4 linked regions of the Homo sapiens genome follow. The protein of the gene in region 2 purifies or fractionates together with the protein of the main gene of each other region. This does not show direct contact. Each region holds a gene or a part of one and is shown on either strand. Other genes may lie near its edges.

The links.
Region 1: the proteins of DEFB109B (region 2) and CACNA2D2 purify together in Homo sapiens (affinity purification with mass spectrometry; one large-scale study listed by BioGRID and IntAct). This does not show direct contact.
Region 3: the proteins of DEFB109B (region 2) and MAN2A2 purify together in Homo sapiens (affinity purification with mass spectrometry; one large-scale study listed by BioGRID and IntAct). This does not show direct contact.
Region 4: the proteins of DEFB109B (region 2) and SEL1L3 purify together in Homo sapiens (affinity purification with mass spectrometry; one large-scale study listed by BioGRID and IntAct). This does not show direct contact.

What each region holds. Positions count from the first base shown.
Region 1 is NC_000003.12:50,497,135-50,500,634, forward strand, and holds part of CACNA2D2 (voltage-dependent calcium channel subunit alpha-2/delta-2 isoform b precursor), read right to left. Parts: intron 1-3,500. UniProt on the Homo sapiens protein: The alpha-2/delta subunit of voltage-dependent calcium channels regulates calcium current density and activation/inactivation kinetics of the calcium channel.
Region 2 is NC_000008.11:7,311,527-7,315,521, forward strand, and holds the start of DEFB109B (beta-defensin 109B precursor), read left to right. Parts: upstream 1-1,195; 5' UTR 1,196-1,319; coding exon 1,320-1,377; intron 1,378-3,995. UniProt on the Homo sapiens protein: Has antibacterial activity.
Region 3 is NC_000015.10:90,901,859-90,906,101, reverse strand, and holds the start of MAN2A2 (alpha-mannosidase 2x), read right to left. Parts: upstream 2,801-4,243; 5' UTR 2,670-2,800; intron 2,577-2,669; exon of another isoform or gene 2,368-2,576; intron 1,913-2,367; 5' UTR 1,895-1,912; coding exon 1,763-1,894; intron 852-1,762; coding exon 594-851; intron 524-593; coding exon 379-523; intron 258-378; coding exon 86-257; intron 1-85.
Region 4 is NC_000004.12:25,747,989-25,751,488, forward strand, and holds part of SEL1L3 (protein sel-1 homolog 3), read right to left. Parts: intron 577-3,500; coding exon 437-576; 3' UTR 1-436.

The sequences.
Region 1 (3,500 bases), on a different chromosome or scaffold from region 2:
GCACCCTCACACTGGAAGAGACAAGGCCCAGCGGCCACAGCTAAAGCAGGGCGTGGAGAGGAGCAGGAAGACCCCAGATCTGTCTTCTTAGGGCATTGGAATGTCAGAGTTGGAAGGATCCTGGAAGAAAGGAAACTGAGGCCCAGGGGGAGGAGGGGTTTTGTCCAAGGTCACCAAGCAAGCTACCCAACTGAGAAGATTAGGCTGGGCTTGCCCTTGACAGAGGCCTCCTCACCTAAGATGGGGGCTTTCAGAACTCCTTTGTGAATATTCTCCCCACCTAATCCCAGCTAGACAGTCTCCTGGTTTGTGAGGCTCTCCCCTCACCAGGCTCAGTCACGGGTAACAGTGATGGCTGGGGACCCAGCAGGTCCAGACCAGATGCAGAAGGAAAAGCACTGTGAGGGCCCAGGTGAGAGGAGCGGGACCAGGACCGGGGACACCAAGCCAACAGCCTGAGTCTCACAGTGGCAGGGCAGGGCTTGGCTGAGTCTGCCCCTTAGGTCCTGACCTTATGTAGATTTGAATGACAGAATCTTGACTCCTTTAGGGAGGCCCCAAGAGACCCCTGTGGGGACCTGCAAGCCAGCAGGGCCATCTCAATCTCTGTGGTCACCTGCACTGGCCCCCCTTCTGCCCTTAGCCACAGGCAGCTCTGGAAGCTCTTCAGGTTCCACAGGACAAGAGAAGAAGGGAAGCAAAAAAAAGCAAAAACCACACACACACTTCCCTTGGGGAATACGAATATTGATTCTGTAGCTTCTTGTTTAGACAGTAGGCACCAGAAGAAGAAGAAAAGAAAAAAAAACCTGACATGAAGAGAATCTTCCCAGTTGGCTGGAGGGCTGTAGCCAGCAATGGGAAAGCCCCTCATGTCCTCCCCAGCATGTCCTCCCCAGGCCTGAGGCCCACAGCCCAGTCACTTAAAGACACAAGGCACCAGGTCTGGAGGCAAATCTCCGCACGGGAGTGGGGTAGGTGGCTGGAAGGGGGAAGAGAGAGAAAGACCACTCCTATCTTACAGGCAACATCGCCCTGCCAGACAGAGCTCAGCCCACCTGCCTTGACTCCCAAACCTCCAGCTGCCCCTTGGAGAGTTCCCTAGCAACAAGCCCTTGAACGCTGGTTCCCAAACCCCCCAAGTCCCACCCATCCGGATGGCATGAGGCTCCCCCAGCATCTATAAGATCCTAGCCCTGTGAAGTCCCCTCAGACCTGGCAAAACTGCCAAGGGACTAAAGGAGCCAGCCTCAGGTTTCCATGAACAACCCCCAGCCCCACCCCCACCTCCATGACCTTTCTCTCCGGAATCAGACTGGAATCTGGAGAAGGAAATGGCATCTCATCTCCAGATGAAGCCCCTCCTCTCCTCCACCCCTCCACACAGAGCAGGCCTGGCCCATAACTCAAAGCTGGGGGAAGGAAAGCTCTGGGCTGGGGGTGCTCCATGATGGCCTGTGTATACGTGGGAGGTAGATGGAGGTCAGCACTGGGGCTATAAGCACTGGGGCTGGCAAGGCAGCTTCATGCCAAGGAAGGCCCCTCAGGGTTGCCTGAGACCCAGAGGAGGAAAGAGAGACAGACAGGGCAAAGTTACAGCTGGAAGTCCCAGGCCCAGCTCTCATATCCTAGGCCTCTTCATTTTCTTCCCAGAGATTCAGGCTTCAAGCCCCCCTCCACTTCCTGGGCCCACTGCCCAGATGTCCCCAGCCCTCTGGCTGGGCAGCCAAGTGTCTGACAGATCTATCCTTTCCCCTGCCCTGCCTCTCATGGTTGTGGGCTTTAAGCAGGTCCCTTCATTTTTCTGAGGTCAGTCTCCCCATCTGGAGGATGGACATGACCACGGGCTCTGAGGTCAAGGCACTAATGTGGGTGAGGGGTCTGGCCTGGGCTCAGTAAGGGAGATCACCATTAGCCTGGAGACGTCCCCCACCACAGTCAAGCTGTGTTGCAGGGAGTGAGGGAGGGAGGTGGCCCAATGTCTTCCTCAAGGAGGTAGAATCTGATGTGGGTGGGCACAGCCTGAGAGAGTGGCACAGCCCAGAGCTGGGATGGGAAGGCCTCTGGAAGGTTCGGGTGTGAGACCTTGAAGGAGGGGATCTAAACCTGAGAAAAGAGCACAGTCATGGCAGGGCAGCATGAGCAAAGTAGAGAGACAGGCGGCCACCTAGCCCGTGGGAGCCCTGGAGACTGGTGGGTCTCGCAGTAAGACTGGCTACCGCCCGGCTGCAACATCTGGGCTTAATGCTAATGTTAACAGTGGCAGCCATGGCACCTGACGGAGCCCTCCCTGCCCACTAGAGGCGGCATCCTCTCCCGTTAATTCTCACCACCAGCCTCTTAAGCAGATTCTATCATTTCAATTGTGGAAACTAAGGCAAGGTCATCCCAATGGAGCCTGCAAAGTCTACACCTGACACCCAGCATGTCCCCAAACTACATCCTCCCAGGAGCTGGCAGTGTCCACCCATACACATCTGAGATGCCAGGAGCTGGCAGTGCCCACCTGCACACAGGCAGGAGGAGAAGGGGATACTTTCTGCAGAAGTCCACTTAGAGGCCAGCTTTACTCTGGAGTCAGTCTCTCCATGGGGACATGAGTGTGACAAAGAATCTGGAGTGAGATTCACCTGCAGACTACGAGGGGACTCATCCTAAAATGAGTTTCCTCCTTTCTCAGGGGTTAACCTGGCACAGCTGACCAAAAGGAGGTGCCTGATAAAGATGGAGTCCAGGGGAACAGCAGCCAAGGGTCCCCCCAAAGTCCTCCACACCAGGAGGGCTGTGAGCACCTGGCAGCTCTGCATCTCGGTGACAGCAGCAGCGGCTGGGAAGCCTCATCCCTCCCTCCTGCAAAAGCTGAGGCAGGTTTTTGGGAAGATGGGGGACCCAGATGAGTGATGCTGCCTCCCTCCAACAGGGAGAGCCACAGGGAGATGGAGACAGGGGCTGGAAGGCCCAGACAGACACACGTCACCCACCATTAACCGTAGCTACACTGACGCATGCCCTGTTGTAGGCACTGCTCCCCATGTGTCCACTCAGGAGAGGAGCACGTACTCTGGTTGTCATTAATCTGCTGGTGGTCCAAACCCCTCAGGCCCCTCACTGCTTCTGCCCACCCTCAGAGGAAGGGAGACGCTGGCCAACACCATCGCTGGAGCAGAGCTGGGCTAAGAGGGTGCAGTCAGGTGGGCCAGCTCAGCCGGGTGCTCCACCCAGCACTCAGCCAGGACTCCACAGAGGAGGGGACAGAGAAACCTGGGGGCACTGGAGAACAGGGCACAGAGGCCCAGCAGAGAGGACAAAAGAGGCGGGCAGGGAAGGATAGGTACAGCTCGATGAAAGACCTGAAGAAGGGGGACAGGGGAAGAGGGAGGGAAAGACACAAGGGGAGGCAAAGCAGTGAGGGCTGCCCCTCAGCCGGCGGTGGTGGCCTGATGCTGGGGAGGGCATAACTGGAAAAAGGAGGCAGGTGAAAGGTGTGCTCGGACTCAGGT
Region 2 (3,995 bases):
GGTCTCCTCTGGATGTCCTTAGGTAGACACTGCAGCAGAACTGTAAAGTTTTTCTGGAAGTCTGGGGAAGAGAGGAGGAAACAGAGAAGGGGCAAGAGGAGAAAATAGAATGAGGCTCAGAATACCAAGCCTTAGTGCTGTCCCTATCGCCTTCCTCGCTAGATCACTGGGTGATCCTGGGCAAGTTTCTTCCTTTCCCTCAGCTTATTTCCTCATCTGTAATGTAAGTGACTAGACAAGATAGCCTATGATGTTCATTGTAACTCTAACTTTTCCTTCCCAAAGCAAATAGCTGGAAAAGACACTGTGCTTACAATATGCAACAAATAAAAACAAAAGATTTTTAAAAACCCCTAGTGTAACTTGAATTCTTACAAATAAGCAATGGTACATCATAATTTTACAAAGCTCTTTTGTGATTTCATTTTTAAAATCAAGTCAAGTTTTATTTTACTTCATAATAAGATAATGGAGATAAGTGTTAAATGGGTTCATGAAGGAATGTTTGTAAAAGATGCAATAATCCAAAATAGGTAATTGTTATATTAGTAGTTCCCTTTACTTGGGTGGGGGGGGGGAACAGATAGAAGAGTGTTAGGAAAAGCTTCATAAAGTGGATTATATAGAATGTGCTTTAAAAGAGTTTGGTGTTTTACTGAGTGGGGAAAGAGCAATATGGGGAGTTATTGTTCAAGGGTTAAAGCTATAAAAAATGAATCAATTACAGAGATAGGCTCCAAACCATAGTACTTATAGTTAACAATAAGGTATTTTGTATTTAACAATTTGTTAAGAGGGTCGATCTTAGGGGTTCTGACAACAACAACAACCACAACAAAGGGACGTAGGAAACATTTGGAGGTGATGGATATATTATTACCTGGATATTGGTGTGGTAACAAGATAATACTTATGTGCAAACTTGCCAAACTATATCCATTAATTATGTACTTTTTGTGTATAACAATTTTACTTCAGTTCCTACTATATTGCCTGGCAAACAATAGATGTATAAAGTGAGATCAATGATTATTGCATATGCATGTCAAAAATAATAAAGAAAGCAGGTGACAATAAAGACATCCTGAATCTTTGGGAAATAAATAGCATTCACCTGCTTTCTCATCCATTGAGATATCACCACCTTTATGTACTTATGTGTCCCTGGAAGTTTCCCGTGGGAGATTTAGTTATTCTCTTTTCGTTAGGCTCTACTGACCAAGAACAAATCACAGACTCAGAGAGCATCATAAAAAGGCCTAGACCCACGATGCCCAGAGACTCCAGGCTCAACCCACATTGATGCTGGCCCTTCAGCCATGAGACTCCATTTGCTTCTCCTTATTCTCCTTCTTTTTTCAATTCTCTTATCCCCAGGTAAGTTGGTAGCTCATTACTATAAGGTTCTGCAGATGAGAATGCTATATCCCTGGCCAGACAAGAACCTAGAATCAGTCCTGTGGGTTCAAGAACCTAATATTTACAGCTTCACTAGGATTATAATAGGGAAAAATAGAAAAGAGACTCATTTAGCAGTATGTCCTCTTGATAAGATTCCATCCATGTCTTTTGACCTAGTGAGTGGATATAATAATGGATGCTGCTGAAATTCAATCCTGTCAGATGAAACTGCCTACATGTAAATTTCCATGCCCCACCAAGCACCTCAAGATACAAAGTAAGGATACAACAGAACATGACCTCAATGAGATGCCTTTGCGGGACATGGAAATTTATATGCAGGCAGTTAGATCTGACAGGATTGAATTTCGGTGGCATCTATTATTATATTCACTTAATAGGTCAAAAGAGATGGATGGTATCCTATCAATAGGAGCTACTCTAAATGGGTGTTGACAAATCTGAAGGTTTTATTCGAAGAAACAGAAAAACTATAATCCTAGAATAAATGAAAATTATATGAGAGACTTTTCAAAATAAATTATGTTTTATGTGGTTATGAATAAAAAATGATTTTCAAAGTGCAACTGAAGAGTAGAAAGGAGAGTTAAAGGAACTTCAGACAAGTGAATTAATAAGGAGCAAAGACACCAACAAGTGCTGCTCAAGGTATATTACAGGTAACCACACAGAAATGGGTAACATAACTTTCAATACAAAAATGGCTAAAATTTACTGGGCTAAGCATGCATTTTGGGGGCTTTTGGAAAAAAAAAACAGCATAATAAACCTAAAGAAGATAAAGGGAAAATTATAAATACAAAATATAAATTAATGAAACAAATGAGAAAAAACAGTATTTTAAAAAATGTTTTTCAAAAAGTCTAATACACTTTATAATAACCTGGCAACACTGAACAAGAGAAAATGAGAACATGCTTAAAATAACTATTGCAGGAATGAAAGGTTAATATCAAAACAGATGTTTCAGAGATTCAAATAATTTTTAAATTTGTGTATATTCCGTCTTCACTGTGTACTTGGGGATTTTCCTGTTGCAGTTCACTATATCATGACTGTGTCATCAATTTTGATGCTAGTAAATTATTACCATCAGCATACAAATATGCTGTTGTTTTTCTGATCTAAGAAAAAGAATTTCCTTGCTTTTCTTCTGATGCCAGCTGTCCTCCCCTTTTTTGCTCTACTTTTCAGCAAAACATCTTAGAATAGTTGTCCATATTCTCTGTCTTCAATTCCTCTCCTCTCATTGTTTCTTAAATATATCCCAATCAAGCTCTCATTGTTTCTTAAATATATCCCAATCAGGCTCTCTCCCCCTTTTTCGATCATGCTATTGACACCACTTTTGTCAAAGTTATGAATAATCTCCACATTGCTAGATCCAATGATCATTTTTCACTACAACTTTAATCGACCTATTAGCAGCATTTGACACAAATAATCACTTCCTTCTTCACAGTATACTTTCTTCATTTGGCTTCCAGGACGGCTCATTCACTTGATTCTCAGCCTGTCTCACTGGAGCTACCACTTCGGCTTCCTTTGTTTCTTCCTCATCTTTTGCTTCACACCTCCTACAGGAGAGCTCCAGAGCTCAGTTCCTGGTCCTCTTCTCTTCTCCCTCACCACACACTCTTTGGAGGGGCTCAGCAAGTCTCATCCCTTTCAATTCTCCTTTTGGACCTCCTTTTGAACTCCAGGCTTATAATAAATTATCCAACTGCATAACTGGTATATCTACTTGGACACTTGATTTCAAAAGTAATATATATCCAAAACCAGACTCACGATTTTCCCTCAGAAACCTCTACATACACATTTTTTCTCTTCTTGCAGAGTGCCATGGTCAGCATTGGAGCCTCTCTTAGCTTTCCTGTCCACTTTCATCCTCAGCAAGCCTCTATCTCTGCACCTCAAGAATCTCTCAGGGCTCCCATCCCTTGCCCAACCTCGGGCAGTAGCTGCCACACACTCAGTGAAAGACCAGAGAAACTACTTCTCTCAGCTACCGGCCCTGCCCTGCCTTCAGACCTCATCATGCCTCTCTTCTTATGCACCTGTGAGAACAGAGAGTGAAGGGGGGATTCTCTCAGCTCCCCAACCCACTCCCCAGTAACACAGGGTTTTCCTCGATTCTCACAGTGAGACCTTTACCTTGCTCTGACCTCAAATTGCACCAGTTCCTACATGCCTGTCCCTCAAAAGTGTCTCAGGTAGTTCTCCTGCTCTCCATCTGATCTTACCTAGGAGCACACAAGATAGGTCATGAAAAAACCATTAGTGGGGCCACACGCGGTGGCTCACGCCTGTAATCCCAGCACTTTGGGAGGCCGAGGCCGGCAGATCACGAGGTCAGTGGCTAACACGGTGAAACCCTTTCTCTACTAAATACAAAAAATTAGCCGGGTGCGGTGGTACATGCCTTTAGTCCCAGCTACTCGGGAGGCTGAGGCAGGACAATCACTTGAACCCTGGAGGCGGAGGTTGCGGTGAGCCGAGATCGTGCCATTGCACTCTAGCCTGGGCGACAGAGTGAGACTCCGTCAAAAAAAAAAAAAAAAAGAAGAAGA
Region 3 (4,243 bases), on a different chromosome or scaffold from region 2:
TGGCACCCATAGCTTAAGGTAAGACCCGTCCACCCAGCCTGGGGCTCAGACAATGCCCTCCCATGCCTCCCCGCCTGGTACTGGCCTTCGGACTGCCGCTCTCTTTTGGACATTGATGTTGTCCCACCACTTGGCGAAGAAGGAGACCTCTGCCCAGAGGAAGCGCCGCCGGGGGTCCTCCTGCAGCTTAGACACCATGCTATTGAGGATGTGTTGGGTCTGCTCTGTGTAGTACTTGTCAAAGGTCTTGATCCAGCCTAGGGAGCCAATGTAGGGTCCCCTGAGGATGCCACCATCTTCTTCGACGTCCCTCCCTTGTATTGGCCATCAGAAATCCCACTCCACACTCCAGCTCCCAGGAGTCTGCAGGGCCCTCACCTGGGTCATTGTGAGAGTGGGGCACCACAAACACCTGCAGGTCTTCAGCATCCCAGTCGTGCGGGTCGTAGGAGATGTCGAAGCCTTGCCTCCACACACCACCATCCACGTTGTCAAACGGCAGCTCCTCCGACACAGTGAGCATCTGCCAGGTGAACTGCAGCTCAGTACCCCAGTCGTGGCCACTGTACGTCCCTGCCAGCTCTGACTCTTACCTGCAGCTCTGGCTTCTGACCCCGGCCCCCCAAAGCAAACTGGCAGTCCTGCGGGGAGATGGAGAAGAAGCTGGGCCGGGGCTCCGGTGGCACCACCCAGGAGCCATTGACCGTGTAGTAGGGCAGCATGGCGGGCGGGCCCTCTGCGTTGGCTGTCAGCTCCAGCACGGAGTCCTTGATATGGCTGATAATCTCATGGTTCTCCTCCAAAAGCTGCTCCAGCTGCTCAATGCGGTTCTGCAGCACAGAAATTTGGCTCTGCCAAAAAACCAGAAAGCAATCACACACAGCTCCTTATGCCACAGGGAGGGTCTCTGCTTGGGGTCTACCAGCTGAGGCCTGAGTACAATTCTTCCCTCATCAGTCAAAGCCAGACCATGAGCCTAGAGGGATAGATGACACCGTTCAGATAAAGGGAGCTGTGCAGATCACCACTGAGGACTACACTCCACTTGGGTTGGGAGAACCATCACTCTCTAGCTCAGGGATGGCAAAGATTTCCTTTCACCTACCTATTCTCAACAATCGGTGTTGCCTGTGCTGAGGATTTCAGCGGGGCTTAATGGCAAAGAATGCTGCAATCAATTAGCAATGTCTGCCAAGAATTCAGGAGGGGCTGGGCGCGGTGGCCCACACCTGTAATCCCAGCACTTTGGGAGGCCAAGGTGGGTGGATCACCTGAGGTCAGGAGTTCAAGACCAGCCTGGCCAACATGGCGATACCTCGTCTCGTCTCTACTAAAAATACAAAAATTAGTCGGGCATGGTGGCAGGCTCCTGTAGTCCCAGCTACTTGGGAGGCTGAGGCAGGAGAATTGCTTGAACCTGGGAGGCGGAGGTTGCAGTGAGCCAAGATCGCGCCACTGCACTCAAGGCTGGGCGACAGAGCGAGACTCTGTCTCAAAAAAAAAAAAAAGAAAGAAAAGAATTCAGGAGAACAGAGTGACAATACTCATTGCCATTGACATTTTTTCTTCCTTCCTTCTTTTCGCCATCACTGTTTTTAGCTGAGGGTTTCTACAAAACCTGACTATTGGGAAGGAAGGCTCCTGTCCTGTACTGACATTACCCTCCAGCGGGGGGTGGGAGGGGAGGCGGCGGGGTGGGAGGTGCATACCCTGAGCCCAGGTGACTTGTATACAAAGAAATTAGCAACCAGGCACGACTCACCCGGGGGAAGTTCCCACCATTCTGGTGTCGGGTGGGATCGTGTTGCACTCGGTCCAGCATGAGGTAGAGCGAGAAGACTGCCACACAGAAGATGGCAGCCCCACACACTGTCACCTGCTTTTTCAGCTTCATACTGGCCTCCACACACACCTGGCAGGAAGGACACCATCTGTAGCTCCAACATGCAAAATGCCCGTGGCAGTCTTTCCACCAAATACCCCAGTGAGTTCCTGAGGGCTGTTCCAAAGGAACACCCATTTGCCTGGCTCCAAGTAGCACAAGCAGCACATCTGAGGCTGGCCCACCTGGTCCTGGTAGCAGCTCTGCCGCTAGGGTGGAGAGGACGCTCTCCTTTGGCTGGTGCTATGAAAAACGGGCCCAGGATAAGAGTCCCAGCTCCGACTGGAGCGCACCACACAAGCTCCTGATTACACAGCTTCCCTGCCTAGATAGGAGGTGCCTGTTCAGGCTCCTCGGCCATGTGCTTCTAGTTTCAGGTGAATAAGCTAGTCTCTATTTTGTTTGATTTAAAAGTTTAGCCAGAACCCAAAGAGACTGATAGGAAAGCCTTTCTCAGTGCCCTTTCGGGTCAAACTGGCACTCACCAGAAACAGTGCCTGGCACGATCCTTTCTCAGAAACACAGAATGAGTTTCTTTCTAATAAAGAAGAAAGATGCTTGTGTTTCTAGCATAAAGCAAGCCCTGTGTGTTCTCCCTGTTTCTCTACTGTTCACTGCAGTGGGAAACTTCCAGCCGCGGTTTGCAGAGCACTTAGGGGACCCCTAGGAAGCCTGCAGTGACGCCGAAGGCCCCCTGGGAAGGGAGAGACGGGGCCCAGTGCTCAGCTGCGAGGCAACTTCAGGGGACCCGTGCCCCCCGCCGCCACCGCCCTCGGGCTCCGCTTGCCTGCTCAGGAGGAAGGAGGACGCTAACTGCGGAGCCGAGCGTGGGCGGGACCGCGCTCCGGAGTCTGCTCCGCGGGCCCTGGGGCCGAGGAGCTTTGTCGCCTCTGCGTTGTGCCCTACTTAGCGCGATCTGATTCTGCTCGGGAGCTTCCGGGCAATATTTTCAGCCCTTAGAGACTGGGTCTAGGCCAATGTGGGTGGAGCTGGGGAGAGAGTTGGATCACAGAGGGCAGGCACCTGCCGCCAGGTCTCTGGCCGCCCGCCCGGCTCCCTCCCCACCCGCTCCGACTTCGTCGGCCCCGGGGACCGCAGAGACAGGCGCCAGGTACGGGCCTCAGGCAGCCTCCTGTCCCTTCCTGGCCCCTCTGACGCCGCAGTGGCGCTCGCACTCCCGCCGCCCGAGCCCGGCCTCTGTCGGGGCAGCCGGAGCCCTCCCGCGCGCGCACCCGGCCCGTTACCGTCAGCGCCCGGCCTCCGCGCCGCTCCGGGCCCAGTCGGCCGAGCTGCCGGCTCTCACACGCCCGGGGACGGCGGCCCGCGTGCAGGCAGCGACGCAGGCGAAGGCGGGCGCCCGCCCACCCGTAGCCCCCTGCTCCGCGCGCCGCTGCCGCGCTCCCGCTGGGCCCCGGGCCGCCGGCGCGCTCCGCTGCGCCGGCCCCGCGCGGGTCCGCCAGCCTCTGAAGCTGCCGGGCCCAGCAGCGTGCGGGGCGGGGACAGCCGCGCCGCCCGCCCCGGCCTGCGTGTGCCCGGCGGAGCTGACAGGAGCTCTGGCCGCCGCGGTCCCCGCCCGGCTCCTCCCGGGCCCGCTCCGCTGGGCTGCAGTGCGCAGCCGCACCAGCCCGGGCCGGGCCTGGCCAGCTGCGGAACCTCAGGAGGGACGCGCGACTGAATTTTTTCGGAATCCTACTTGAGTAAGCGCATGATCGGGCAGTGGTCGAAACGCCCGCCTCCGTCTCGGCAGACGCGTAGCGGGGTGCGTTCTCCGCGGCCTCACCCGGCTCCGGCCCAGGTAGCCTTAGGTCTCTGTCGTTGCGCCCCTCGGGCAAAGGGGTGCTGCCTCCTGTCGGTACAGCGCATTCCTCGAGTCCCTTTCCTTTCCGTGCCTGCTCTATGTTTCCTGCCAGCGAGTGAACAAGACACAGACTTTTCTTGGCTGTTTCCCTTTTACTGGGCATCTAGGTTGTTTACAGTTTTTCAGTGTAATCCATACTGCAATGAACATCTCCATGAATTCCACATTTTTGTTCTTTTTAAGTTATATATAACATTATCTGAATGTGACCCCCCAAATTCATGTTCAAATCCTAATCCCTCAAGGTGATGATGGTATTAGGAGATGGGCCTTTGGGGGTGAACAGAGTTTGAAGGGAGAGCTCTCATGAATGGGATTAGTGCCGGTATCAAATGACCCCGAGAGTCGGCCCCTTCAACCACGTGAGAACACAGCTAGAAGGCACTATCTGTGCACCACAGGCAGGCCCTCACCCGACACTGAATCCGCTTATGCCTTATCATGGACTTTCCAGCCTCCAGAACTGTGAGAAAATACATTTCTGTTGTTGATAAACTACCTAC
Region 4 (3,500 bases), on a different chromosome or scaffold from region 2:
AAGCACAGGTACCAAAATATTATCCACCTTGTAGAGTAGTCATAATTTTCTGTTCTTCAATAAAGGGATGAAGCACGCACTGTGATTCTTAAGACACATCTTAGTGTATAAGAATCCAGATCTGCCGTAGGGCATGCTATGACTCCTAATACATACAATCACTAGAACAAAAGTCTGTGATGGCCCAGTAAACTTCCCCACATGCCCTATGATCAAGATGTTCCTTGTATGTGTTTGATGACCTTTGGTATTACCACTGCCTGATCTGGGTACTTCCTTGTAATTTGACTTTAAAAAAAATGACACCAATTGCAAAATTTGCATCCAGTTGACAAGACATTTAAGGTGTTTATCAGGATCATGCCCTGGCCCCAGCTTCCCAATACCAGCTGTTGAAAAGATTCTCTCTCATCTGGAGAGAACTGGAGTGCACAGTTCACCCACGTGGCTCCGGGTTATTAGTTACTGTGGGCTGGTCTTGGTCAGAGGCATCTGCAGCTGGAGTCACAGCTGGACTTGCAGTGGACGTGGCAGTGTCTGGGGAGGCCTGGGATGGTCTTGGAGGGGGATCGCTTGCTGCAGAGACACATGCACAACAGGTGCTGAATACTCAAAACAGTGCATTCAGAATGTACAACCACACCTAGAGACTCTGGCAAGCCAGGAGAGATGCATCTAGTCTAATGAACCTGACACTAACTAGCCAGGCAACTCTGGACCCGTTATCTAAGTTTAAGAAGATGCCACCACATGCTGACAATCTGATTTCTAAATAAAAACCCTTCAAGAGTTTCACCTCCAAGTGCCGATGCTCATTCCTAAGGGGACATTCTAGGAAGTTTAAGAATGGGTCCCCAAACTTCTGGCTTTTCTGGATATATGCGGGAATTCTTCGGGCCCCTTCCAGTACCTACAGAAGAGGTCGTGGATTCCAACACTCTTCTGAAAGAATAGGAGAGTGATGGGGAGGGGCAGGATGTTGTAGAATGATGTACCCTTTCTAAGGTCATTAAAGCCACTACTCTGGCAGGTGATCTAGTGATTAGAGCCCCAGTGATGAGGTACAAAGACCATTTTGCAGCAGTCAGGAGAACTGGGTTGGACAAGCCTCATTTATCTGCTGCTAACAAGGGACCTTGGGATAGGTACAGATGGCAGACATTTTGGTTGTAAAATGTTTGAGTCTCCCGGGCCTCGGTTTCATCACTTGTGAATTGAGAGTCTTGGATTAGATGATCTTGAAACCCACTTTGATCCTAAGATTTACCTTCCTGATGATCTCTGAGGAAGTTAATGAAGTACTAAGGCATGTATTTTCAAGCTCAGGGAAATGTTTAAATCACCATGGTAACAAGATAAATCAGCAATGAGTTTTCTGATTTAAAAAAAAAAAGTGCCAATGTGTAAATGTAGAAAGAATGCATAATTAGCATTGCCACCATTTAAATCTTTGGTAAGAGCATAGTAAAAATGTTTGATGTTTCTACAGGAAGTTAGTCATTATCTGTGTGAGGACTCCCCTTCTTCCACTGGGGGGTTTGCAATCACTGCACAAGCCCCCCACAGCCCGGCCTAATTTTAAAGTGGCCTCTTTGTCTCTGCTCATCTGGAATGTGTGCTAATTTTATTATTGGACTAGAATCAAGGTAACCAGGACAATAAGCATGTTGTTTAAAAAATTACAGAGTATATTCCAGAGCCAAATAGGAGTGATTTGTGAATTATTTGCTGCCTGGGGGACCATTTTCTGTACATTAGTGAGAAATATCACGAACTGGCCCAAACTGCAGCCCATGGGCCAAACGTAGTCATTGCTTGTTTTTGTACGGCTCGTGGTTTAAAAAACAGTTTTTACAATTTTACACAGTTGAACAGAAAAAGAGTAATATTTCGCGACATGTGAAAAATATATGAAATTCAAATTTTGCATCCATAGTAAAGATTTATTAGAAACCCAGCCACAGGCCGGGCGCCGTGGCTCACGCCTGTAATCCCAGCACTTCGGGAGGCCCGGACGGCCGGATAACCTGAGGTCAGGAGTTTGAGACCAGGCTGGCCAACATGGTGAAACCCTCTCTCTACTAAAAATACAAAAATTAGCCGGGCGTGGTGGCACGTGCCTGTAATCCCAGCTACTCGGAAGGCTAAAGCCGGAGAATTGCTTGAACCTGGGAGGCCGGAGGTTGTGGTGAGCTGAGATCTTGTCACTGCACACCAGCCTGGGCGACAGAGCGAGACTCCATCTCAAAAAAAAAAAAAAAAAAAAAGAAAGAAAAAAGAAACCCAGCCACAATGGCTGCTTTTCAGCTACCGGCTGAGTGGAGTAGTTGTGACCAAGACAGCCCCGAGGGCCCAAAATATTTATTATCTGGTCCTTTACAGAAAAAGTTTGCTGATCTCTGCTGTTAGGAAGAACATCTGCTTGCCGACTGACCAGATGGAAGCAAAAAAGAAAGAATACGTGGGACTATGTTGGATTCACATGTGAAATGAGAGAATGTTTGCACAAAGGAGGTATACAGGGGAAAACCCTAGAAATTGTATGCTATAAGTAAGATCATGCCTACTTCATCTGGGCCTCTGGATCTAGCAGGGACCAGATTTGTGTCACTGAAACACTCTTCAGGAGTGGAGATACTGGTAAGATGTCAAGCTAATGAGACAGGACAGAGTACAACCTCCTCATGAAATCTCTCTGACTATAAGGCTACTGCTTTCTTCATAAGCACTACTTTGTGACATTTTACTATAATTTTAGTAGAAACCTCATTAGCTGGAAATGTAGATGACAGGAAACAGCAGGAAAAGGTTTAATTAATCTTATACATATCACCATACTCTTTTTAAAAGAACATTAGGCTAACCACTTAGCTGGAAGGAATGAGTTGTCTTAAATTATAAATGTATTGAATAGGCTGACGTTGGTTTAAAACGTTACCTAGTTGTACCGAGGAGCTAGCAGTTCTGCAAATCTTGCTCTATATGGTGTATTCTATTGAGACATAAAGTTGACATGATACTAGTAAGACAGGGCTCTTTCTTTGAAATAGTGACTTCTATTTTCCACTTCTGTTCTTGCCTTTAGCTTCCTTCAGGCAGCTGACGGTCAGGCTCTGTGATTTTTTGGTCTCAGGGGAGGTTTGTGGCCAGGCAGAAGTGGAGATGGCTCCAGACATATACTTTGGGATTTTTTGTTTTTCAAAAGCCTGATCCATTAAGGCAATTATGCTTGGTGTACCCTCCCAAAGAGTGGACAAGGAGAGTGCTTTTGAGATGCAACAGGTGAGGAAAGGAGCTTTTTGGAGTCCTTGGGTTGTACCCACAGTACCCTTGGGTGCCCCATCAGCAATCAGAAATGAAGACTTGGGAGAAGAAGGGCTAATGACGCTTGGCTTTGGCAAAGATGACGGAGTTCCCAGGTGACCCAGAAGCTGCAAAGCCAATGGACCTAGGGGAACAGTGTAGGCCCAGGGTGATGTGTGTTCTGCTATCAGGCTGGT